4 linked regions of the Homo sapiens genome follow. The protein of the gene in region 1 purifies or fractionates together with the protein of each later gene. This does not show direct contact. Each region holds a gene or a part of one and is shown in the gene's direction. Other genes may lie near its edges. The genes, in order: REPS1, BMP2K, AP2M1 and AAK1.

Region 1 (7,036 bases):
GGTCTCAATTTGGCTGATGAAGAAGAAGAGTCATAACTTACCCAGGTTTTTAATTTTTGAAGAACTGGCAGTATTGTTGTTACCTTGGTTAAAATAGAAAAGTTAGGGCAGAGGATGATGAAGTTATGTTTTAGTCACTGTGAGTTTAGAATGGTGAGGAAAAGTGAAGTGTTAAGTGAAAGGGAAAATTTGGAAGTTTTCATTTGATACCTAAACAGCAGTCAGAGATACACGAAGAAAATCAAGATTGTTTGCTATTATGGGAATAGGCAGGAGTATGCCAGGAGGGCTTCATGTAATAGAGGTAAGAAGCAAAGTGAGATCTGATGAAAGGCTGTGAGATTTGGTCTTTAGGTTACATACAGACCATGTAACAAGTTAGTACTTGCCTTCTAATACTTAACAAACATTCTTAGAAATCTTTATCATGTAGTCACATTCATTCAGCCTATTTCTTCTATTAACAAAGTGATTATACAGTTACTAAAAAGAAGAACTTTTGTATTCATGCAGGACAACAACAGGCTGGAGTTGTTGCCCATCCTCCTGCAGTGCCTCCAAGACCACAGCCCTCACAGGTAATTCTCCAAGGTATTTATTACTAAATGTCCCATGATCACTTTGCCTGCTAGGTATTTAATTCTATTCTCAAATTATTTGGAAGGTCAGGAATGATCTGTTGGTAATCTTTAATGAGCATTTAATTCAGTGAGGCTGAATCTCATTTTGAAAGATGCACATTTCAAGAATGATCTGAGTTATTTTTTGAAAGAGCCTTAAAAGTGAAACAAATGATAATGTCTTGACAGAGAAGAGTTTAGTGGAAACAACAATGGATTGGGAGATAGGAAATATCCATTAATGTCCTGGGTCTAGCAGTGACTCACAAAATCACTTCACCAGGCTGGGTGCAGTGGTTCACACCTGTAATTGCAGCACTTTGGGAGGCTAAGGCAGTAGGATTTCTCAAGCCCAGGAGTTCCAGACCAGCCTGGACAACATAGTGAGACCCCCATCTCTAAAAACAAAACAAAAAAATTAGCTGGGTGTGGTGGTGTGCACCTGTAGTCCCAGCTACTTGGGAGGCTGAGGTGGGAGGATCTCTTGAGCCTGGGAGATCAAGGCTGCAGTGAGCTGTAATTGCACCACTGCACTCCAGCCTGGATGACAGAGTGAGACCCTGTCTCAAAACAAAACAAAATACCCCTAAATAACCTCACTGCATCTCTCTGGATGTGTTTACCACATGAGTTAAGGAAGTATAATGACCTCTGCATCCCTTCCACATCAAAATTAGAGTGCTGTAGTAGACATTTATAAAATGCTTTGGGACAGCCTTAGTGGCTAAAGTTAAGGATCACATTATACATGAAATGAAGGAATGAGACTTAGCAGGGACTTGAAAGATAAAGTGGAATTTATTGGGGAAAAGGTATTCCAAACCGAAGGTATGACATCCACAAAGCGATGGAGGTTTGTGTTAAGCCTGGCACATTCCTCAGGGGAAAACAAGTTAGTTCAGCACAACAGGAGTAGATGTGTGGAGTGATGAGAAATGAAGCTGTCCATATCGTAGTAAGAAGGATAGACTTTTTCTTAGAGGAGATGAAGAATTTTTAAAGGGAAGAGACTTCAGATTTCTTTCTTTAGTATCCTTTACTTCCTTTGTCATAAAACATCTCACACTCTATTTTAATTTCTTATTTACTTATTCTCTTCTCCTGCTCCGGACTGTCAGCTTTATTAGAGTATAAGTGGGCCTCATTTGTTTTGTTCACAAGTACATATTCAGTAAACATATTTTTAGACTGAAGATGGAGCAGCATTGGTCTGGCTGGCAAAGGAGTGGAAGATGAATTGAAGGGAAGTGTTCCTGACATGTTGGGAGGATAGAGCAGTGGTTTTCACACTTTTTAGAGCAAGCTTTTTAAGAAACAGTGAAACATTAAAAAAAAATAACTTATTTAAGGAAGAAACTATTGTGCATTAGTCCAATTAAGAAAAAAACACATGCAAGTGGAGAATGGGGGTAGGGCCAGACCTACCCTCTCCTTCATTGTACTTTCTTTGCAATACAGTTTTTGAAAAAAAATATCTTTTTATTGGAGGTTTATCATCTTAATTTTTTTTTTAGTGTCTTAGCTTTTCACTTATGGTTTAATCATTTCTTTAGAGCTAAATGTTACTATAATACACCTCTCTGAACTTACAGATAATAAAACAGGTCATCTTTATATACTAAGTTTTCGAAGAAGAAGAAGATGACTCTGTGACACTGATAGGCTGATAGAATGTGTGTTCCTCTGTTCTGAACCATTGCACAGGCTCCTGGTCCTGCTGTGCATCGCCCAGTGGATGCCGATGGCCTCATAACTCACACTAGTACCTCACCTCAGCAGATACCAGAGCAACCAAATTTTGCAGATTTCAGTCAGTTTGAAGTATTTGCTGCATCAAATGTAAACGACGAACAAGATGATGAAGCCGAGAAACATCCAGAAGTCCTGCCGGTCAGTTTTCGAGGGCTTGGCTAATTTTCTGCAGGCAGTCACTTCCCATACCATGTTGTGTCAACAGAGCAGATATTAGAGGGGACATCAGTGAGTAAAATATTCCCTGGGTCAGTGCTTCTCATCTTTTTTATTGGCCTCCAATATCTGCTGGTTGCAGTGTAATGCTTACTAAGTATCAGAGTCTGGTGGGGGTGGGGGATTGATATCACATGCAAAGACACCACCGCCTGGCCGTGGCTAAAACGCTGCTTTGGGGGTTTCCATCTTAATGCTAAGCATCTGTCTGTGTGATTTGGTGAAGATTTCCCTGTCATAAGAGGCCATGGTTACCATAGCTCCACTCATTGCAACTTTTCCCCAAGGGGAATTTCACTATATGTAACTTTTAGATCTAATTACAACTTTAACTAAAAACAAATTTCAGCCAAACTTCTAATTAAAGCATTTAAAATTTGTATGAGAGTAAGTTGCCTTAGTTAAGCAAAGACTATAGGATACCAAAATTTAATATTCACAGTGTTCTAGGATATTCTATTGTAGTTCCAATGGCAAGAACCTCTCTAGGAATCTCTGACCTAAATTGCTGAGCATAAATGTGGAGTTGGAGAGACCAGAGGAATTCTGCAATCTCTTTCTTATAGGTCATAGCCATGGAAAATTTCCTACTAGCTCCCTTTTAAAACCTACAACTTTCTGCCGTGCCCATTAGGGGACTGGGCTGCATCTAGGAGGGTCAGAGTGGGCATGTAGAGGTGTGCACAGGGTACCGTACTCACTCCCCTGGGTGGATGCCTCCCTTCTCCCAACCACGAAGACTTCCCAGACTAACCACTTAGAGGTTCGGTGCAGTGGCTGCATCCTCACCCCGTCCTCCTCTCCCTCACACATTTATGACCTGCATCCTCGCCTGTCCTCCTCTCCCTCACACATCTATTACATAGCTGCATCCTCGTCCCCTCCTCCTCTCCCTCACACATCTACTACCTGCATCCTCACCCCATCCTCCTCTCCCTCACACATCTACTACCTGCATCCTTGCCCCGTCCTCCTCTCCCTCACACATCTATTACCTGCATCCTCGCCCCATCCTCCTCTCCCTCACACATCTGTTACCTGCATCCTCGCTCTGTCCTCCTCTCCCTCACACATCTGTTACATAGCTGCATCCTTGCCCTGTCCTCCTCTCCCTCACACATCTATTACCTGCTCTCCCATCTGCCTTTCAGTAGCAGAGAAGGCTCATTTAATAAAGTTCCTTCAAGTTTCTTATCATCATCTCAGTTTTCTTGTCAGAATATTTAACATTTTATTCTGATTTGGTACATATTCTATATTTATGCATAATTACATGTTATGTAGAATTAATAGTGATAAACATATTCATTTTTAGGCTGAAAAAGCTTCTGATCCTGCAAGTTCTCTTCGAGTTGCCAAAACAGATAGTAAAACTGAAGAAAAGACAGCTGCTAGTGCTCCTGCCAATGTGGTATGCAAAATGTCTTTTATAATAATAATTTTGTACATCATAAGTAATGTGAAATAATTTTTAGAAATAAGGTCAGCCAGAAATCATCTAACCCATTTCTCTGCCTTTAACTGTAGTATAGTCAGTCTAGCTCAGAACAAAGTCTGCCTATTTAATGGAGATGATATTCTGTAATCTATGTTAAGTATGTGTCACAGGTTCTCAAAATTTAAGTGGTTATTGCATTCTTCCCACTATATAAGGTAGAACTTCTTTATAGGTGAAATTCAGTTTCTTTTATTGTAGTCTTCAATATAATAAAGAAAAATTATCAGCCCTCTAAGGTTGTTATTATTCCCTGTTCTCTTAACTTGTTCTTTAACTGTTTTAGGTATAATTTTTTCCCCCAACATTTTATTATGAAAACGTTTAAGCATACAGAAAAATTGAAACAATTTTTCATTGTACATCAGTAAATTCACTACTTTATACCATTATTATTTTAGGATACTTGCTTTACTACATATCTCTCCATGCCATCTGTTCATCTGTCAATCCTTATATGTTTTATGTCTGTGTTAGTCCGTCTGCATTGCTATAAAGGAATATGTGAGACTGGGTAATCTGTAAAGAAAAGAGGTTATGCCGGACACAGTGGCTCACACCAGTAATCCCAGCACTTTGAGAGTCCAAGGCAGGCGGATCACTTGAACTCAGGAGTTTGAGACCAGCCTGGGCAATGTGGCGAAACCCCGTCTCTACAAAAAGTACAAATATTAGCCGTGTGTGGTGGTATGCGCCTATAGTCCCAGCTACTTGGCAGGCTGAAGTGGGGGGATCGCTTGAGCCTGGGAGGTGGAGGTTGCTGTGAGCTGAGATAGTGCCCTACACTCCACCCTGGGTGACAGAGTGAGACCCTGTCTCAAAAAAAGAAAAGAGGTTTATTTTGCCTCATGGTTCTGCATGCTGTACAGAAAGCATGGTACCAGCATCTGCTTCTTGTGAAGCCTCAGGAAACTTAGAATCATGGCAGAAGGCAAAGTGGGAGCCGGTGTGTCACATGGTGAGTGAGGGAGCAAGGAGAGATGCCAGGCTCTTTAAACAGCCAGCTCTCATGTGAACTCAAGAGTAAGAACTCATTCATTACTGTGAGAAGGGCACCAAGCCATTCACAAGGGATCTATCTCCATGACCCAAACACCTCCCACTAGGCCCACCTCCAACATTAGAGGTCACATTTCACCATGAGATTTGGAGGGGACAAATATCTAAACTATATCAGTGTACTTTAGATTGCAAGTATCAGCACACTTTCCCTTTGAGGGAATAATTTTGGTAACTTTTTTTTTCTGTTATCTAGACATTCCCAATAGTTATAAAAACAGCATGTGTTTCTGAAGTGCTTAAATTCTACTTTCTGGACACTGTGTGTGTATTAGTCTGTTTTCACACTGCTATAAAGATACCACCTGAGACGGTAATTTATAAACAAAAGAGATTTAATTGACTCACAGCTCTGCATGGCTGGGGAGGCCTCAGGAAATTTACATTTATGGCGGAAGGCAAAGGGGAAGCAGGTGGCAGGATAGAAAAAGAGTGAGGAAGTGCCTCACTGTAAAACCATTAGGTCTTGTGAGAACTCCCTCACTCTCATAAGAACAGCATGGGGGACCACCCCCATGACCCAGTCACCTCCCACCAGGCCCCTCGCTTGACACATGGGGATTACAATTTGAAGTGAGATCTGGGGACACCGAGCCAAACCATATCACTATGTTTTATTACATTAGTAGTCCTGTGAGTTTTTAAGTAATGAACTTTATTTTTGTCAACTCACAGTAACAAATTAAAAATATCACTTAACTAAAGAGATAGCAGTTGACTATTGTTTTTATTTATTTACAGGTAAATCAAGTTATGGTAAATGCCAAAATGCTGTTTTTTATTCTGCCAAGGGCAGATTCATAATCACCGACAAACTGTCAACTCATTTTCAGAAGTTATAATTACTGTGCATATTAATAATGATGTTTTTGGTTTTTTAAAGAGTTGCCTAGCTTTCCATTACTTTATAATGTTATTTTATTCACTAAGATGAATGTTAGTATTTTTGAGTAAGAAATCCTATGGTGATAATGCATAGATATTTCTGGAGACTGCCTTTGTTTATTGTTGAACAGGTATATATTGATTCTGTATCATATTTATGTTAAAACTGTGAATATTACAGTCTTGCATCAGTATGTTGCTCTAAAAATACTTATATTGCAGGTACATTCATGATTGTGGTGTCAACTAGAAACATCTTTTCTCACTGTAATTTAAGTTAGCTCTTGCCACAAATATATAGATTTAAAGTAGGACAAGTAACTTTCAATTTTCCAAGAGCAAATGGCTTAAAGAAAGCAAATGGTGTTGCAAAGTGCTAACTATGAATGTCTTCAAAAATGCTTATTATTAATGGAATTCTTGTCTTAAAGAGCAAAGGCACAACACCACTTGCTCCACCACCTAAACCTGTTCGAAGAAGATTAAAATCAGAAGATGAATTAAGGCCAGAAGTTGATGAACATACACAAAAGACGGGTGTCTTAGCTGCTGTTCTTGCATCACAACCTTCTATTCCCAGGTAATCAAAGCTATTCCTAGACACATTTAATTACTAGGAAGAAAAAGCACGACAATTAAAAGTAATCAAACTGGCCCAGGCGTGGTGGCTCACACCTGTAATCCCAGCATTTTGGGAGGCTGAGCTGGGCAGATCATTTGTGGTCAGGAGTTAGACCAGCCTGACCAACATGGTGAAACCCCATCTCTGCTAAAAATACAAAAAAATTAGCCGGGTGTGGTGGTACACACCTGTAGTCCCAGCTACTCGGGAAGCTGAGGTAGGAGAATTGCTTGAACCCAGGAGGCGGAGGTTGCAGTGAGCCGAGGTGGCACCACTGCACTCCAGCCTGGGCAACAGAGCAAGACTTCATCTCACAAATAATAATAATAACAATAATCAGACTGAAGTAAATTATGGTCAGACTAGTTCTTTAATTGAGCAGAGCCT
Region 2 (4,552 bases), on another chromosome or scaffold:
GCACATGGCACCTTTCTAGGTGTGTAGCCACTGAGAAGGGACAGTGAAACTGTTATTTTTGATATCAGAATGTCATTTTTATGTGCATATCCCTAAAATTAGGGTTATTTCTACATACACTAGTTACACTTGTGAATTTTTTTTAAGGTCTCTTTTAATTTCCAGACAGTTAAAAACAATCTAGTTATCTTAAAGCATTAGAAAGTTATTATCTGGAGAGTGCAGAGATTTCAGTCCATACACCTTTCTCCACAAAGCAGAGCCAGAAGTAACTGACTATTGTGCCTAAAACTCTGTTTCATTTTTAAAAACAAGTGCCATTAAAATGGAATATCTAATGATAAGCATATGAAATAATGTGTAATTAGCTCAATTTAACTATTCCACAACTTACATATTCCAAAACAATGTTATACATGATAAATATATATAATTTTTGTCAGTTAAAACAAATTAAAAAAATGGACTATCGTCGCACAGAAGCCTAGAACAAAAATATGAAGAGAAATATCTGACATTTGTAAAGAAATTATAAGAAGAAAAAAAGATACAGAACAGAAAACATTCACTACTTTAGAAACACTTTATGCATGGCTTCTTGCCCCAAACTTTTATTGTGATGGCCCTAATAAAGCAGATTATTGGAAAAATTGGAGGACAAGGGTTGTATAAAAATTTTATTTTATGAAGAAAATATGTAGCGGAAACTGAATTTTCAAGACATTTACAATGTGAAATCATGTTGCATTTAACAATGTACTTTATTAGCAACTTCACCAAATATTCCCCAAGTCATAAGCAACAATTATTTTTATTAGGTTTTGGGGGGTGGAGTAGTTTTAATAAAGTGCACAGAATGGTGACACCCACAAAGCCTTATATAAAGGCAGGATTCATGCATCCTGCTGCAAGTACCTCTGCACTAATATACCAGATCCTAAAATGCATATAAGGTGGACTAGCATCTTAATTCTGCTAGTTGATTGTGTCTTTACTGAAAAGAACCCAGCTACCAATTTGCCTTTTTTTACACCACAAATCCTAATTAGAAACTTGAGGTTTTATAGAAATCATTTAATGATAGAGATTACATATGTGAATTAATGTGAATATAGTATCTGTGCTTCCTGTGTCTATGACTATTTTAAGATATAATTGTGCTGCGCTATCAGATTAACATTTGGAAGTTTCTAGAACAGTTAATGCTATTTACAGAAAGGAGTAGAAACTCATCAACTGGCACTCTCTTTGATTTTTATATTTTAAATTAACTCTCTTCGATCTCAAAGTATATTTTACGAGTAATTTTATTAGGAATCTCTTATAGTGCCCCAATGGGATAAGCTATTTGCCTATTTTCACAGTTCTGAACTTGGAAAGAAGCAAAGTATATGTAACTAAACCACATATTTGTCTTTTTATTGCTTTTTCCCTTCTTTTATATGCTAAATCAAATATAGATTTGTGGATAGGGAAGCAATATGTGAATCACAATGTAGCAGAGGCAGACCAAGCATTACATTATTATTTAGAGCTGGACTGCACCAATTACTTGTCCTCGTGCCAAAGGCAAATATGTTTGCACCTTTTTTTTTTTTTCTGATTCTCAGGTTGATTAATACTGCTAATGCAAATGCTCAAGTAGATGTTTAAAAACTTTACAAAATAGATTCAAGTGATACTTTCTTTTAAAAGTGAAGAGTTGATGATTACACATAGTAAATTCATGAACTACAGTAGGTTTGTATCAAACAATTTTTTTTAATGAAAATCTGTTGAGGTGTACACAATATGCTTCTTGATTGTATTAGTCCTTGGTCTCTGCTAGACCTCATGAGTTTCATCATTTAGAAAAGGGGTAGAGGATGAACTAATGTCTCCTTCAGATGTAAACATGAAATACCTAGAGTTTTACTTGCTTTTCAATACACTGAATAATTTTAAATGATTCTGACACTGATGTAGACCCTTTGACTTATAAATTCTGAGGAAACAACTGACAGCATAAAATATTTACATTCTTATAACACAGCACAGTGACTTTCTTCTTTCAAGATTGTAGCTCAGAGAAAAGATACAGGATTCAATTGGGGGTTCAATAGGATAGAAATGGAGAGATTCCTTTGTGTTGTAGTAGAGGCATTTTCCTAAGGAGTATAGATTTATACTTTGCATTTTCATTCATCATCCCCCAGAATCATGGTCAAGGTGTAGGTCACTCCACACAGCTGATGCTCAGGTTATTCCCTTGTGAGAATTATGAGAATAAAGCTCCCAAGATATGTGAAAGTGCTTAACACAGTACCTGGCACACAGCACTCAATAAAAGTTTGGCTCTATTATGGGATGGTTCAATTCTGGTTTAAGGAAGGAAGAAAGGTTATTATATATGTACCACTAAGCAAATATATATATATATATATATTTGGGGTTTTTTTTCCCTAATATTATTTGGGTGTCCCCTGTGCTTCTTTAGGATGTAGTTATAACTAAACCTGTTATACTTGAACATCACTAAGAGAAGTAAATTATTATGAAGCTAGCAAAAATCTTGAGGCCAAAGTTGTTTCTTAACAGCTTTAATAATGCTTGTTGATTTTGAATAATCCTTTAAAAAGTGGACCATTTGCTTATTTTAATATCACGTCAGTAAAATGTTAGTATTAAAAAGATCAGCTTTTTATGGCATTGAAGAATGTATCTGCTAAGACACAAAAATTGCATGGTAAGTATAATAGGTGGAGGAGGAAAGGTTGTAGGCCGGATGAAAATTTAACTGACTAGAACATTTATTCAGGAGTGTAATTATTTTCCCTTACCCCAATCCCTGTGTACGTGTTGGGTATAGTTACGACATTATCCGGATTTGCAAATAGACACAACTTTCAGTCTTACCCTGTTTATTGTTTAAGAGTGATAGACTGTTGTCCTCTTGCTGGTGGAAAATCTAAGGTGGAGCCCACTCTTCTATGCTGAAGTTCACCAGGCAGAGCAGTTTTCTTACAAGTCAGCTACTCTGCTTGGTTTATTTTAGGTTTTGGTACTTCACGTAAGCACTGTTAGAAGGTACAAGTGTATTAATATCACTAGTTTTGAGGCGCTTGGGTACATTTGTTTTTAATATATTTAGAATGTGCAGTAAACTTTTTTCTCATTTTTTTTTCTTTTTAGCAAACTTGTTATTTTAGGTCCAATTATTGAGTTGACAGTCTACTGTGAGAATGAGATGACATATCTACTGTGAGAATACCATAAATGATGAATAGTTTATTTGAGAACTTTTATACTCAGTGGTGTTTTATATATTAAGATAAAAATATGTACACACATGCATGTCACATCTCTCTACTGTGGAGTTAATGTGAATTTTTAAAAAATGGAATTGCAACCACAATCATATCTAAGAGAACATTCACTCCTAGTGAGGGTTTACAAAAGCTACTAAGAGAATAAGGTAGATGATAATGCAAAGGGTCATGATTTGGGGTTATTTTTGTTTTATTTTAAAATTTATACTGCTACTTTTGAAAGAATTGTTTTTATGACTATGCTCTTTTTGTGATTGAAAAGTCATCTAATAGAAGCTGTATAGAAGCTACTTTTTAATTGCTGGCAAACAGCTTTAAGTGCACTTTCTTTGATTACACTTCCATTTTTTGTTAAACTTGAATTTTCTGAAGCCTTTTATGTACCACTAAGCAAATAACTTTAACCTTTAAATAAAGCAAATTTACATCTTTATTGTATTTCTACTTGTTACAAAACATACTTGCTAAAGTAACTTCAGTCCTCAAATATAGCTGGGAAACAATTATGAGATAGACTCAGTCTCCCCCTCCCACCCCTTTTCCCCTGCCATATCTAATTAAGCACTAACTGATTTTATTACTTTATTGCCTTTACACTGCTTATTCTTTTTGACTGAATTCTGTCCCTGATTCACTGTTTTGTTTGAAATTTAAAGTTATTTTCTTACTGTATTTATCATACCTGTTTTAATCTGTTTTCTTTAAATGCAATAAATCCCAAATGGATTGCATATTCTTTATAATCAGTGACTTTGGAGTTTTTCATTATTTGTCTTATTATGACTTTTGGATGTAAACTTCTATTCAAATTCAGTTATTTCATTCACACCACAAACATTAAGCACCTATTATGTAGCAGCTAGTGGAATAGAAAAGTTGCTAAGATTAGATCCCTATTCTTAAGGAGCTCAGAGTTTACAATTTAGGTAAGAAAACCCATTTGACTTAAGAGTTTTTGCCACAAGAACACTTAATAGCACGACTTTTTCAGTGAGTCATAATTACTGATACTCGAGTGATGACAGTAAGGCAAAAACAATATTGTGTAGTGCCTTCTGAATAACTTATTTTACAGCTTCCACATTATAAATTTTTAAAAATCTTTAAAACTGATAACATCTTTGGCTGAATTAATACTGGTTATTTGCTTAAATAACATTGTAATCCTCAATTATATCAGAAAAGAGGCTATGACACATTAAAGAGAAAACCTATTTATTGGATTGATGGACTAAGCTTGGCAT
Region 3 (6,773 bases), on another chromosome or scaffold:
TTCTTCCTCAGAGAGCTTGAGATAAAGTCACAGAATGGGCCTGTGGCAGTGCTCTTCATTTGGCTCCCTGGCTGATGGGCTGGCTTGGCCCTTGCGGGCGTTTGTCCATTGGCTGGTGGTGTGGCATGAGCTAGAGCTGCAGCTGTGGCAAGGCCTGGCCTGTCTGAACCTGGCTGGCTACACCCCCCACCCCAGACCCCCTCCTGCCTTGGATGGACTGGGCAAGCCAAGGCCAGGTCACACGCCGCCTTGCCTGTCTTGTCTGCTTCTGCCTCACGGTGTGTGCCGCCCTCCCGGTGTGTTGTGTGTCTAACCCTCTCTCTCGTTGCTATCACTCTCCTCTTCTTGCTGGCGTCATTTCTCTCATCCCATCTCATTGGCTGCCGTAGCAATAGGTAAGCGGCCTCTCAAGCTGCTGCCCAGGTACAGGTGGGTGGGGGCCTGCCCCCATCGTTTTCCTGCATCCTTTTTCATTCCCTCAACTTGCTCTGGAGTTGGATCCTGGGCAAGAATGGGTAGCACAATTCCATGGCCCCTTGGTACTTCTCCCTCCTTTGTGACTTCTGAAGCCATGCTGGCTTTGTCTAACATCTGGAGGAGTCGGCCCTCCCCACTGGTGGGATCACTAGCGGGAGGACTGAAGAAGCAGTGTCTCTTTCTGTCCTGGACCTGGGAGCTTACAGGGAAGCTAGATAAAGCTGGGAAATTAGGGCCAGCCCTGGGAGTAAGGAATATCTGTCTCTAAACCTGATGAACCTCACTTTATTAAGGTTACATCAGCCTTAATAGTTGACTTCCCTATTTCTTGTGGCCTTTAGACACTAGCCCAGCTCAGGCACTCTTCCCATGCCTCCACAGGGAGTCATAAGAAGGGAACCACTCCAGTGGTTTAGGCATTGGCTTTCTTTGGAGTGTGTGTGTCAGACTTCTGCAGAAAGGAGGGTGGGGCTGTTAGCAGCTGTGGTTGATCCTTATGGGGTAAGGTTCACCTGGGTGCTGAGCAGGCCCTATGCACTCTTTTCCCTCAGGAGGAACGCAGTGGATGCCTTTCGGGTCAATGTTATCCATGCCCGGCAGCAGGTGCGCAGCCCCGTCACCAACATTGCTCGCACCAGCTTCTTCCACGTTAAGCGGTCCAACATTTGGCTGGCAGCAGTCACCAAGCAGAATGTCAACGCTGCCATGGTCTTCGAATTCCTCTATAAGATGTGTGACGTGATGGCTGCCTACTTTGGCAAGATCAGCGAGGAAAACATCAAGAACAATTTTGTGCTCATATATGAGCTGCTGGATGGTGAGGCTGGCGGGCTGGCACGGCAGCGGGCGTAGGGTGGGAAAAAACCAGGCTGGGCCTGGCCTGAAGGTGGGTGTAGGTCCGAGGCTCTGGTACACTCTGAACTTTCTTTCCTGAGTATTTGGTCTCTTGGGCTAGGATCTCTATGCCCCTCAGAAGGCCAGTTCACATCCAGACCTGAAGGCTGGTCTGAAGTAGAACACAGAAATAGGCCAGCAGGTGATCTTCCAAGGGGCTAGGAACCTGACTCAGGTTTGGTGGCTGAACCTCCTGTATTCATCCTCTTTCCTTTGTGGCTTGGACCTTAGTTCACTAACTGTCCACCCAGTTTTCCATCTCAGCAGCTGCTTCAGAGCCTGGGGGAGAGTGAGATATTACAAGCCTCTTGGGGTGCACTGTTATCTCTGTTCCTCTGTAGAGTGTGATCTAAGAGAAGGTGAATACTTCCACCTTCCCAATGTCTATTTTCTGGAGAAAACAGCTCAAAGCTTCTTGACTTGCCACCCACTGGCCATGTGACTCTTCTATTGATTTCTTTTCTTTTTTTTTTTTTTTTGAGACAGGGTCTTGCTCTTGTCACCTATGCTGAGTGCAGTGGTGCAATTGCAGCTTACTGAAGCCTCGACCTCCTAGGCTCAAGCAATCCTCCAGCCTTAGCCTCCTGAGTAGCTGGGACCATAGGCACATGCCACCATGCTTGGCTCATTTTTACTACTTTTTGTAGAGCTGGGTCTCGCTATGTTGCCCAGGCTGGTCTTGAACTCCTGGGCTCAAGTGATTCTCCCACCTTGGCCTCCCGAAGTGTTGGGATTACAGGCATGAGCCACTGCACCTGGCCTTGATTTCTCTATTTGAAAAAAATCAAACATTTGAATTGTTTTCCTGTAAAGCACAAATCACAGAATAAATGCTACAAAGCTAGAAGACTTTCTTGCGGATGATCCCACATGGGCTTTGGGAGCTGTGCCGGTCAGATGTGTAGGCCCAAGTAGGGGCTGGAATGAAGAAGCTCTGTCCAGGGGCTGATGGTTCCCTTCTTTTTGCAGAGATTCTAGACTTTGGCTACCCACAGAATTCCGAGACAGGCGCGCTGAAAACCTTCATCACGCAGCAGGGCATCAAGAGTCAGGTACTTGAATTGTGCAGACTATAGTCAGGGTGGAGTCCAATCTCCCTTCATCTCAGCTGGCCCCTGAGCCTTGTCTGAGCTGACTCATGAGCCCTCCCATGACAGGAAGTGCTGGCCTGAGCCTCCTGCCATGATTGCAGGCCGATTTTGCTCTGTGTGGTCCTCCCACTGCAGGAGCAGCCAATTCAGCATCTCTATTACCAGGAATACAGCTCAAGCAGTTTCCTTTTGCACTGAGGGGTGGGGGAGGAGGCCTGGTCTTGAGGCCTGGTATTCCTCAGGAGGAGCGAGCTTGGGCCCTCTCCTCTAGGATCCAAGCCTCATAGCTTTCTCCTCCTTTTCTGCCTCCCTTGCTGCTTCATGTGGGCACCTCGTTGGCCCTGCGGCCTCCAGCATCAGGTAAGCTCTTCCCTCAGCTTCCACCCTTGCAGCTTTGCTTTGTTTCTCCAGGCCCTGCCCTTTGGGGCTTATAGGGGAAAATGGATTACAGGTGGGGACTAGAAGGGATGGGGAATGAGGGTGGAGTGGGGATAGAGACAGGATGATTAAAGGGACAGAGGAGTGAGGCCATTGCTGTTTGTTTCTGCCCTCATGTAGACAAAAGAAGAGCAGTCACAGATCACCAGCCAGGTAACTGGGCAGATTGGCTGGCGGCGAGAGGGTATCAAGTATCGTCGGAATGAGCTCTTCCTGGATGTGCTGGAGAGTGTGAACCTGCTCATGTCCCCACAAGGTGAGGTCCCTCTCACGACAAAGTTGGAGGGGGCCCAGGGCAGGATCCTGGGCCTGCCTGCCTGACTCCGCTGCTCCCCATTTATCTGTTCCATCACCAGGGCAGGTGCTGAGTGCCCATGTGTCGGGCCGGGTGGTGATGAAGAGCTACCTGAGTGGCATGCCTGAATGCAAGTTTGGGATGAATGACAAGATTGTTATTGAAAAGCAGGGCAAAGGCACAGCTGATGAAACAAGCAAGAGGTGCCTGAGGCAGGAGAGCTGGTGGGAGAGGGTGTCCCTTGGAGGGCTCAGTGGGGTCTAGTGAACCACAAGTTTCTTCTGGATTTCATTCCCACTGTAATTGCAAACTCTGTTCCTGACGGTAAGCCTGGCTGTTCGCTCTTGACATTAGTGCTACGAGAGATGAGGGGATCGTCCTCAGAGAGCAAGCCCCTTTGTTTGGTCCCTAGGACCAAGGCCTTTTCTGTACATACTGACAGCCTCTGCCCAGTGTGCCTGAAACACCCAGGTCCCTAGCAGAAGGAGCCCCAAGAGATGAGCTTGCAAGGCTTCCCTCTCATCCCAAGCTCTGGGGCAGACCTCCGAGTCACAAAGCTGCATTCTAGCAGCTTTTCATAGTCTCTGGTGCCAGCCTGGGGTGGAGTGGTCTCCCAGCATGACAGCTGTCATTCTCCTGTACCAATGAGACCTCTTCTGCCCCTGCTTGCAGCGGGAAGCAATCAATTGCCATTGATGACTGCACCTTCCACCAGTGTGTGCGACTCAGCAAGTTTGACTCTGAACGCAGCATCAGCTTTATCCCGCCAGATGGAGAGTTTGAGCTTATGAGGTGCCATTGGGGTGTGAGGAGGCAGCTAGTGCTGCTGGCAGACTGGGGAGAGGAAGTGGGTCAGCTCTTTGGTAACCTTGCTTCCCATCCCTTAAGGTATCGCACAACCAAGGACATCATCCTTCCCTTCCGGGTGATCCCGCTAGTGCGAGAAGTGGGACGCACCAAACTGGAGGTCAAGGTGGTCATCAAGTCCAACTTTAAACCCTCACTGCTGGCTCAGAAGATCGAGGTGAGGACAGGGGGCTCAAGGAGGAGGAAGAACTTGTCCCTAGGAATAAAGGTAGCTGATGTCACAGCTTGACAGAGCTCCCTGACAGGTGTGTCACTTCTAGGTGAGGATCCCAACCCCACTGAACACAAGCGGGGTGCAGGTGATCTGCATGAAGGGGAAGGCCAAGTACAAGGCCAGCGAGAATGCCATCGTGTGGAAGTGAGTCTTTCCTTCATTAGGCCACAGCAGGGCTCAAGATCCCAGTATACCCTCTTGTTTTCAGCTTTGATCCTTCTGAATGAGGGGCAGGGGAGTGTGCCTGTTTGCTTTTCTAGGAGCCTCTGCTTGTACTGTCAGTCTTTATACCTCCATGTGAGTATGTACACGCCTGCATTTGGGTTCATGCACGTGCTTATTTTTTAAGATGCTTTGGCATTTCCCTTTGTAATGTATACATTACAAAGGGAATACATTGCCTTTGTAATGTATCTGTGAAGCAGACAAAGCAAACGATAGCATGTCCAAGTGTCTAGGCAGAAACTGCATCCTGTTGTTCTAAAGAAGTAGACCCAAGTTTCCATAGCAAGTGGTTAGCAGGGTCCTGACCACTTCTCCTTGTTCTGGCACCTCCTGCAAGCTCCTGGGCTCTCTCCTTGCTTGAAATGGGCAACTGCCCTTGAAACTCCTCCAAGCCCCAATGGGCTGCCCATTGTCCCTGTGTTCCCAGGATCAAGCGCATGGCAGGCATGAAGGAATCGCAGATCAGCGCAGAGATTGAGCTTCTGCCTACCAACGACAAGAAGAAATGGGCTCGACCCCCCATTTCCATGAACTTTGAGGTATGGCAGAGGAGGGGCCTAGAGTCATGCCAGGGTATGCTGGAAGACCTCTTAGAGATCATTCCGATAAACTGCTGCACCTTAGAGGTGAGGAAACTGAGGCCTAGAAAGAAGAACTGGCTTTAATTCATAGATCCATTCTTCCCCTTTCAAGCCTCTTAGTAGAAATTACTATTTGTGATGAGGCAAATCTTTTACTTCTCTCGGCTTGTCCTAACACAGTTCTTTCAAAAAACTTAGATTGTTTAAATGCCAGGTAAGACACAAAGTTTACTTACAGACAGGATAATGGGCTGACTTTGCTTTGCGCATGTTAGACATAATTTTCTCCACCTTATTTTTAAGTTCATAATATTGAGCAGGATAAGTATGTTCTAAAGCAGTTCTTTGGTTGCTGTCTCCTGCTGATTAAAGGAACTGATTCAAGGTGTCACAGGTAGGGCTTTCTTCTTTAGTCACCTCTTAGAAGGTCCCACGCCGCCCCAGCTTCTTTCAGGACCCCAGCCATACAAACACCTGTAGTAGCGATGAAGTAGGGCAGGGCAACGGGACTTCCCAGAGGAGAGCGGCTGTAAGAGGAAGGCCACATTTCTAACTAGCTCTCCTTGCCCAGGTGCCATTCGCGCCCTCTGGCCTCAAGGTGCGCTACTTGAAGGTGTTTGAACCGAAGCTGAACTACAGCGACCATGATGTCATCAAATGGGTGCGCTACATTGGCCGCAGTGGCATTTATGAAACTCGCTGCTAGCTGCCACTAGGCAGCTAGCCCACCTCCCCAGCCACCCTCCTCCACAGGTCCAGGTGCCGCTCCCTCCCCCACCACACATCAGTGTCTCCTCCCTCCTGCTTTGCTGCCTTCCCTTTGCACCAGCCCGAGTCTAGGTCTGGGCCAAGCACATTACAAGTGGGACCGGTGGAGCAGCCCCTGGGCTCCCTGGGCAGGGGAGTTCTGAGGCTCCTGCTCTCCCATCCACCTGTCTGTCCTGGCCTAATGCCAGGCTCTGAGTTCTGTGACCAAAGCCAGGTGGGTTCCCTTTCCTTCCCACCCCTGTGGCCACAGCTCTGGAGTGGGAGGGTTGGTTGCCCCTCACCTCAGAGCTCCCCCAAAGGCCAGTAATGGATCCCCGGCCTCAGTCCCTACTCTGCTTTGGGATAGTGTGAGCTTCATTTTGTACACGTGTGACTTCGTCCAGTTACAAACCCAATAAACTCTGTAGAGTGGAGTTGCTGGCTTAGTGTTGATGTGGGAGCTACATGGGGAGGGAACTGGTGTTGCTCTCCGTGCAGTTTTCTGTACTGAATACTCTAAAGGCTCTTTCCTTGTCTTGTCCCAGTTAGGCCCCTCCTGGGCCATCCAAGCCCTTATCCTTGTGGGTTCTGGGCCCAGGTTTCCTGGCTCCTCTTAGAAAGCCTCAAGGGCATGCAGCCGCAGCGGGCCCCAGTACCCTGGGGATAGATTCTTTCCCTAGCTCCTTTTTATTCCCCCTGGTCCTCGGACTCCTAGGCTCAAGAGATCTTACCTGCCCCAGCCTCTGGAGTAGCTGGGATCACAAGCACGCACCACCACAGCACCCAGCTCTTTCTCTAATTCTTAGGCAGATGTTTTCTAATTAGATTAAGCATAAATTAAGTGTGAAGTTTACATTTGGTCTTGTAGCCATCCTAAGAAATTGACCTTTTAATTCCATCATTTACCCAAGCTTCCCAAATCTTGCTGACTGGGTGGTAGGAGG
Region 4 (7,036 bases), on another chromosome or scaffold:
AGACAGAGTAGCGAGAGAGAATGTCACGTAAAACTGGGTCTGGCTATGCGCCCTTTTTGTGTTCTTTGGCTTAAGTTGAGTTTGAATTTGTGGCTCTTAGAAGTATGTAGATATGTAGGAGCCAGTATACAAAGTATTTATGTAGCACCTACCAAGTCCAAAGACCCTATGAAGTTCTGAGATGGATGAGGGAGGTCTATAGTGTGATTGACATCTGCCTTTAAGGATCTGCCAATGAATTTGGGAAGATGAGGCATACATTCACACATACAGTAGCATGGTTACCAGCACTGTCTGTAGAGTCAGACAGATCTAGGTTCAAATTCTGGATCTGTTCTTTACTAGCTGTGGAACTGTAGGCAAGACATTCCAAACCACTCTTGAATCTCTGTTTCCCTGTGGCAGTGGTTCTCAAAGTGGGGCATACTTATCACCTGCGAGCTTGTTGGAAATGGAGATTCTCAGGCCTCACTCTGTAGGCTGTGGGTGTGGGGCTTAATAAGTTCCTGGAGAGATTCTGACGCAAGGTCAAGTTTGAGAACCACTGCTTAATGGGCTGGTCATGAAGATTAAATGAGGCAATATATATAATTAACATTTTCAGGTGTTCAATAAATGGTAGCCATTACTTACCAGCAACGTTATACATCATATGTATATATGTGGGGGGGGAGAGAGAGAGAGAGAGAGAGAGAGAGTGTGTGTGTGTGTGTGTGTGTGTGTGTGTGTGTGTGTGTTAAAGGGGAGTGGGAGCAATGTGAAAGCTAGTTGAGCTGCAGCAATCTGAAGCAATTCCTTTCCCCCATTGTTAGGGGACAGAGCCAGATGTTCTTTGCAGAGTCCTCACCAGCTCCTTAAAGGCTTAACAGACGTTTTGGGTAGCCATGCTCCTTCCCTGGACTCTCTTCTCTGTGAGTCCCCGAGTGCTGACTTATCTACAGTTCTAGCCAGAGTTGTTTAAGGACCACAGGAGTTGTACCCTGTGTGCCCAGAGCGGTGGCTAGGCAGTTTAGGGAGGAGTGGTGTGAGAGGCTTCAAAACACAGACCAGATTACCACCACATTCCGCTGATGATCTCTTTTTCTCTAGCGTGGGTATTGGTCTGTGCTTTTTCATAAGGAATTGCAAGAACCCCAAGGAGCAGGTGCTGGGTAAGACAAAAAGATGTCGCACTGCCATACCTCCCCTGGTAGCATCAGCCTTCCTGGCCTGGTTTCACTAACTAGTCCAGCAGGGGCTGTTTGGGGGAAGTGAAGGCTTTAAGTTATGAGTTTAGAGGAATATGGCTATTTCTAGGCTGGGTGCCAGGGAGAATATTTTCTTTCTAGCTTTCTCAGCAAAGATGCCATGATGAGAAGCTAAATCATGTCTAAGTTAATGGGCATATGATATCAAGGGAAGATTTGGTTTAAGCTTCCAGAATGAGCTCAATGGGAAAATTGGAGCAATGTTCAAAGAAGGATTGAGAAGCTGTGCTTTTATCATACTTCCTTAGCTATACGAGGACTTATATCTAAGCTTTAAACAATAAATGTTTATTTATTACTGTGTTGAAGACAACATTCTGGAACTATAAGGTGGACTAGATGGCTCCTCAGAACAGCTTTCTAATTTATATTCAAGGAATCCAGGTCCAAGGCTGATGAGAAGTACCAAATGTCCACATCAGTAAACTTTGATAATTTCTCCTACCTACAGAGCAAACTAGTAAGGCTTAAAAATGTGTGTGAAATCACCAAAAATTCCATTAAAGGCACATAATATGTTGGTGGTATCAATATGATACACGTACGTGCCTCTTTGTGGCAGGCACTGTATTAGGTTCCAGAGATCCTAAGATGAATGGGACACAGGCCTGACTCTTAACAGAGCTCAACACCTGAGATAAGTGTCCAGCACTTAAGCGTGGCCTTTGACATACATACCTTAGATGGTAAAAGATGTTATGATAAAGAGCCTGGGGGTGAGAGTTCATAGGTGACATGAAGTTTGAACAGGAATAGAAATTGCCCAGCAGATGTTCCAGATGGGGGTTACTCAGGACCTCTCAGGCTGAGAGAATAGTATAGGCAAAGTGGTGAAACAGCATGATAAATTTTGAGAATACTGACTAGTTTAGTGTTACCATTTTCATCAGTACACATTTCCTCCCCAGAATCAAGGAAAGAAGGACAGAGGACACGGAGTGGTAGAATGAAATTCTTTAAGTTGCTCCCTGGAGGTGCTTGCTACTCACTTTCTTCAGTGGCCCTGGGCCTTTTGAAAGACTGATGAATAGGTACCAAGAATGCACGGCTCCCCTCCTGTGCCTCAGCCCCGTGCCAATTGTGGGGAAAGGGAGCAGCGAGTGTCTGGGGAAAGAGTGGTCCCAGAAGGTTTGATAAGAGGCTAGAAGCTTAAGCAAAAGCAGGCAGGGAAGGGAAATGACCAGTGTTACCGAAAGGTATGAACAGGGGAGATATTGAAGGTGTTTGACCAGAGCAGAAGGTACATTGGAGAGAAAAGGAAGGACTAATTTTATGGAGAATCTTGAGTGCCAGGCAGAGAGATTTAGTTATAAGCACCTGAGACCTTCTCTTGACGCAAACACCAATTTGATCCCTCCCACTTCAGATGTCTTTGCCTGCTGGGAAGTCTGGTTTTTTAGAGGCAACTGCAGATTTTCAGGGGGTGGTTTGTGAATGGTGTCTTCTTCCTGGCTTTGGGCATGATGACGGTTGTAGCTTTGCTAAATATAGCCAAATCTAGAATTCAGAAATGAAGTCCAGAATAAGCAATTGCCATGGTCAAACTCTTTCTTTCAGTCTTTCTAACAAAGTAAAGCTCATTTAATAACAAATAATGATGAAGAGAGAGCAGCAGTTTCACGTGACTTTTGAGTGGGAGGGTATGAGGGGAGACATACACTTGTACCCTGGTAGCTAAAACGCCATGTAGAGTACACAAGAAAGGTTTGATAAATATTAACAAAACACACAAAAAATATTACTGCATCAGAGCCGTCATTTTAACTTGCAATATTTGAATGTTGACGCTTCGGAAAGGGGACTAGTACCACCTTCATCTTGCACCCTTTCAAGGATGCATGCCTTCTGAGCCTACTTATGAGGTAACTGTGACATCCGCATCTGAAAGAGAAAAAAATGATAATAATAGAAACGTATTGTCTATTAAAGTAGCATCTAGCACTGTGAGCTAGCAGAGACTTGCCTCCGGTCTATTTTATGGAGCCATATTTTGGTGTGGTGGAAAGAACACTGCATTATGAATTGGGAGATCAAGGTTTGTCAGTTCATTCACTCCCTTATTCAGTAAATGTTACTGAGCATTCATTATGTGCCAGGCATCATGCGGAGATAAATGAGACATGGCTGTGCCTTGAGGACCTCACAGTCATAGGATTTCAGATATGTGAGCAAATAGCTGCAGATGCTGCGCTGGAGTCATGTAAAAGAGCTGGGGAACAGACCCAAGGCAACAATTTTGTGGGTTGGGGAGTAGTCAGGGAAAGCTAAAGAAAGGTGACATTTGAGGTGTGTCTTCAAAAATGAGAACTTATTGCTAGATGGACAAGGTAGAAGAACATTCTAGGCAGAGAGAATAACATGGCCAAAGACACAAAAGCAGAAAAATAACTGCTTACTGGGGAGCTGTATGTTTTGAGATAGCGATAATCTACTAGTGGCCCAGGGCTGTGCTGTTCAATAAAGTAGCCCACTAGCCACATATGGCTATTTAAATTATCTAAAATAGGCCGGGTGCAGTGGCTCATGCCTGTAATCCCAACACTTTGGGAGGCTGAGGCAGATGGATCACCTGAGGTCAGGAGTTTGAGACCAGCCTGGCCAACATGGTGAAACCTCGTCTCTAGTAAACACACAAAAATTAGCCGGGCGTGGTGGCGGCTACCTGTAATTCCAGCTACTTGGGAGGCTAAGGCAGCAGAATCGCTTGAATCCGGGAGGCAGAGGTTGCAGTGAGCCAAGATCCTGCCACTGTACTCCAGCCTGGGTGACAGAGTGAGTCTCCGTCTCAAAAAAAAAAAAGAAAAAGAAAAAATAAATTATCTAAAATAGCAGTTCATCAGATGCACTAGCCACATTTTGATTGCTTAATAGTCACATGTGGCTAGTGCTTACAGTTTTGGACAGCACAGGTGAGATGTATTTCATCATCACAAGTTCTGGCAGTGTTGGTCTAGAGCAGTAGTCTCTAAACTTTTTGGATAGAATAGTGCTCTAGTTAAAAAACATGCCATATCTTCATGTATGTGTGCTTGTTTATTTGTAAGTTATATTCATGTCCTGCTATCATTAGCTAATATCTGAAGTCACATTATATACTTAGGATGAAGTTCATCATAAATGATAGTGGATGCAAATCTATATTTTAAATAATCTCAACAAGATTTTGGTTAACTTATTCAATTGTGATTGTGTCTACATTGCAGTGTGACTATGTATGAAGAGTATGCCAGGAATAGATATGACAGCTCTGCCATTCTCTTGTTCATTTTTGATTGCATTATCTTTAATCCAAGGTTTTTTTTTAGTAGAAATCTTTTTAAGCCTCTAGTTTGTTTTGTGATGATTAATTAATTTAAAATAATGTAATCAGTGAATCCATTTAACCAAGCACACATGAACTATAGTATATCTCAGTGTGCTATAAAGATGTCACCCCATCAGCCCTCAATAGTGGACATGTGACTGAACATTGACTGAATGGGAGTGCTAGTGTTGGGCCATATGTTATATATTAACAAGGACAAAATCTTATTTTTTCTAAATTTTTAAATGTAAAATACACATAACCTAAAATGTATTATCTTAATCATTTTTAAATGTACGTCTAGGTGTTAAATATATTCATAATATGCAACCATCACCACCATCCATTCCCATAACTCTTTTCATCTTGTAAAACTGAAATTGTACCTATTAAATGACAACTCTCATTCCCACCTCTCTCTAGCCTCTGGCAACCAGCGCTCCACTTACTGTCTCTATGATTTTTACTACGTTGAATACCTCATATAAGTGGAATATTACTGTATTTGGCCTTTTGTCATTGGCTTATTTCACTTAGCATAATGTCCTCAAGGTTCATTTGTTTTGTACCATGTGTCAGAATTTCCTTCCTGTTTAAGGTTCAGGAATATGCCATTGTATATATATGCCACATGTATCATTCATCAGTGGACACTGGGTTGCTTCCACCTTTTAGCTATTGTGAATAATGTTGCTACAGTTATGAACATGGATGTACAAATATCTCTTCAAGACCCTGCGTTCTTTTGGGTATATACTCAGAAATGCAATTGCTAGGTCATATGGTAATCCTATTTTTAATTTTTTAAGGAATTGCCACATTGTTTTCCATAGCGGCTGTACCCATGTTTCATTCCCATCAACAGTGCACAAAGGTTCCAGTTATTCCTCATTCTCACCGACACTTGTTTTCTGTTTTGTGACAGTGGCTATCCTAATGGATGTGAGGTGGTATCTTCTTATACTTTTGATTTGTATTTCCCTAGTAATTTGTGATGTCACGCATCTTGTTATGTGTTTATTAGCTATTTGTATATCTTCTTTGGAAAATGTCTATTTAAGTCCTTTGCCCATTTTTGAATTGGGTTGTTATTTTAGGAGTTCTCTGTATATTCTGGGTATCAATTCCTTATCAGATACATGATTTGCAGATATTTTCTCACATTCTGTGGGTTGCCTTTTTACTTGGAAAATCTTACTTTTTAAAATGAAAATAAATAAAAATAGAGGATCTTTTATTTTCTTTGTCTACCCCAGTGCATTGTCATCTTGTACACTACTGTTTTGAGACCATTGTAGTCTAGAGCAGTGGTTCTGTACCATTTTTTGTTCCTCAAAAAAAGACCAAAAATATTGCAATACTTACTTTAACTTTACTAAGAGAAAACTAGAACATAGGTAAAGATGGTGAACTAGATGCAGCAAGGTTCCATGAAGGTGAGGTTACAGAGAAAAGACTCAGTTAAGAATAGTCTGTCTTCATGAAATCTTTCATAACCATTGCAGTCCTCTCTGATCTCCTTCCTTCAAACCCATAGCTTAGAGACTACACCACAGACCCCATCACTGCAAGAGATATGTAATTGCCTTTTGGGGTTCAGTTGTTTCTTGTGTGTTGGTCATATCATGCCAACTAGCAGGACAGGAGCCGAGTCTTCCATTACTTCTCTGTTTGCCATAGCATCTCAGACAGAGAACATATGAGATGCTTAGTAAAACCTTGCTGCCTCTTTCACTGGCAGGACAAGCTGCTCTTATGCGAAATAGCCTTATATCTACATACTCTCATTTTGTGATTGCGTCATCCCTGCAGAGGTAGAAAGCATGGTTATTACTCCAGCTGTACAGATGAGGAAGCAGTGGCTGACATTGGTTGAATGACTTCTTCAAAGTCATATTGGCAAGAAGTAGCAGTGAATGAACTTGAACCCGAGGCTCCTAGCTACAAGTATAGGATTCTTCCTTAAAATTCTTCCTTGTACAAAGGATCATCAGTATCTTTTCTCATAACATTCTTTTTATATATATATTTTTCAGACAGAGTCTTGCTGTCGCCCAGGCTAGAGTGCAGTGGCACAATCTTGGCTCACTGCAACCTCTGCCTCTCAGATTTAAGCAATTCTCCTGCCTCAGCCTCTCGAGTAGCTGGAACTATAGGCATGTGCCACCACACCCAGCTAATTTTTGTATTTTTAGTAGAGGTAGGGTTTCACCATGTTAGCCAGGCTGGTCTTGAACTCCTGACCTCAAGTGATCCACCTGCCTCAGCCTCCCAAAGTGGTGGGATTACAGGCGTGAGCCACTGTGCCCGGCCCTCTCATAACATTGTTGACCTTTAATAACCAACCCTTCCCAGCTGAATCTCCCTGTGAGCTTTTCAAGTCAGATAATGCTTCCATAGCATTTGAAGGTTGCTTACTGGCTTAGTTCCTCTGGGCTGCTGTAACAAAATATCAGAAACTAGGTAGCCTATAAACAATAGAAAT

Evidence for each region.
Region 2: the proteins of REPS1 (region 1) and BMP2K purify together in Homo sapiens (affinity purification with mass spectrometry; 4 studies listed by BioGRID and IntAct, with this or other methods). This does not show direct contact.
Region 3: the proteins of REPS1 (region 1) and AP2M1 purify together in Homo sapiens (affinity purification with mass spectrometry; 5 studies listed by BioGRID and IntAct, with this or other methods). This does not show direct contact.
Region 4: the proteins of REPS1 (region 1) and AAK1 purify together in Homo sapiens (affinity purification with mass spectrometry; 4 studies listed by BioGRID and IntAct, with this or other methods). This does not show direct contact.

What each region holds. Positions count from the first base shown.
Region 1 is NC_000006.12:138,908,239-138,915,274, reverse strand, and holds part of REPS1 (ralBP1-associated Eps domain-containing protein 1), read left to right. Parts: intron 1-513; coding exon 514-578; intron 579-2,324; coding exon 2,325-2,510; intron 2,511-3,903; coding exon 3,904-3,999; intron 4,000-6,458; coding exon 6,459-6,607; intron 6,608-7,036. UniProt on the Homo sapiens protein: May coordinate the cellular actions of activated EGF receptors and Ral-GTPases.
Region 2 is NC_000004.12:78,912,315-78,916,866, forward strand, and holds the end of BMP2K (BMP-2-inducible protein kinase), read left to right. Parts: 3' UTR 1-4,051; downstream 4,052-4,552. UniProt on the Homo sapiens protein: May be involved in osteoblast differentiation.
Region 3 is NC_000003.12:184,177,829-184,184,601, forward strand, and holds the end of AP2M1 (AP-2 complex subunit mu), read left to right. Parts: intron 1-389; coding exon of another isoform or gene 390-395; intron 396-1,028; coding exon 1,029-1,294; intron 1,295-2,340; coding exon 2,341-2,423; intron 2,424-2,816; coding exon 2,817-2,822; intron 2,823-3,020; coding exon 3,021-3,156; intron 3,157-3,256; coding exon 3,257-3,398; intron 3,399-3,867; coding exon 3,868-3,987; intron 3,988-4,083; coding exon 4,084-4,219; intron 4,220-4,322; coding exon 4,323-4,420; intron 4,421-4,928; coding exon 4,929-5,040; intron 5,041-5,653; coding exon 5,654-5,788; 3' UTR 5,789-6,263; downstream 6,264-6,773.
Region 4 is NC_000002.12:69,633,716-69,640,751, reverse strand, and holds part of AAK1 (AP2-associated protein kinase 1), read left to right. Parts: intron 1-7,036.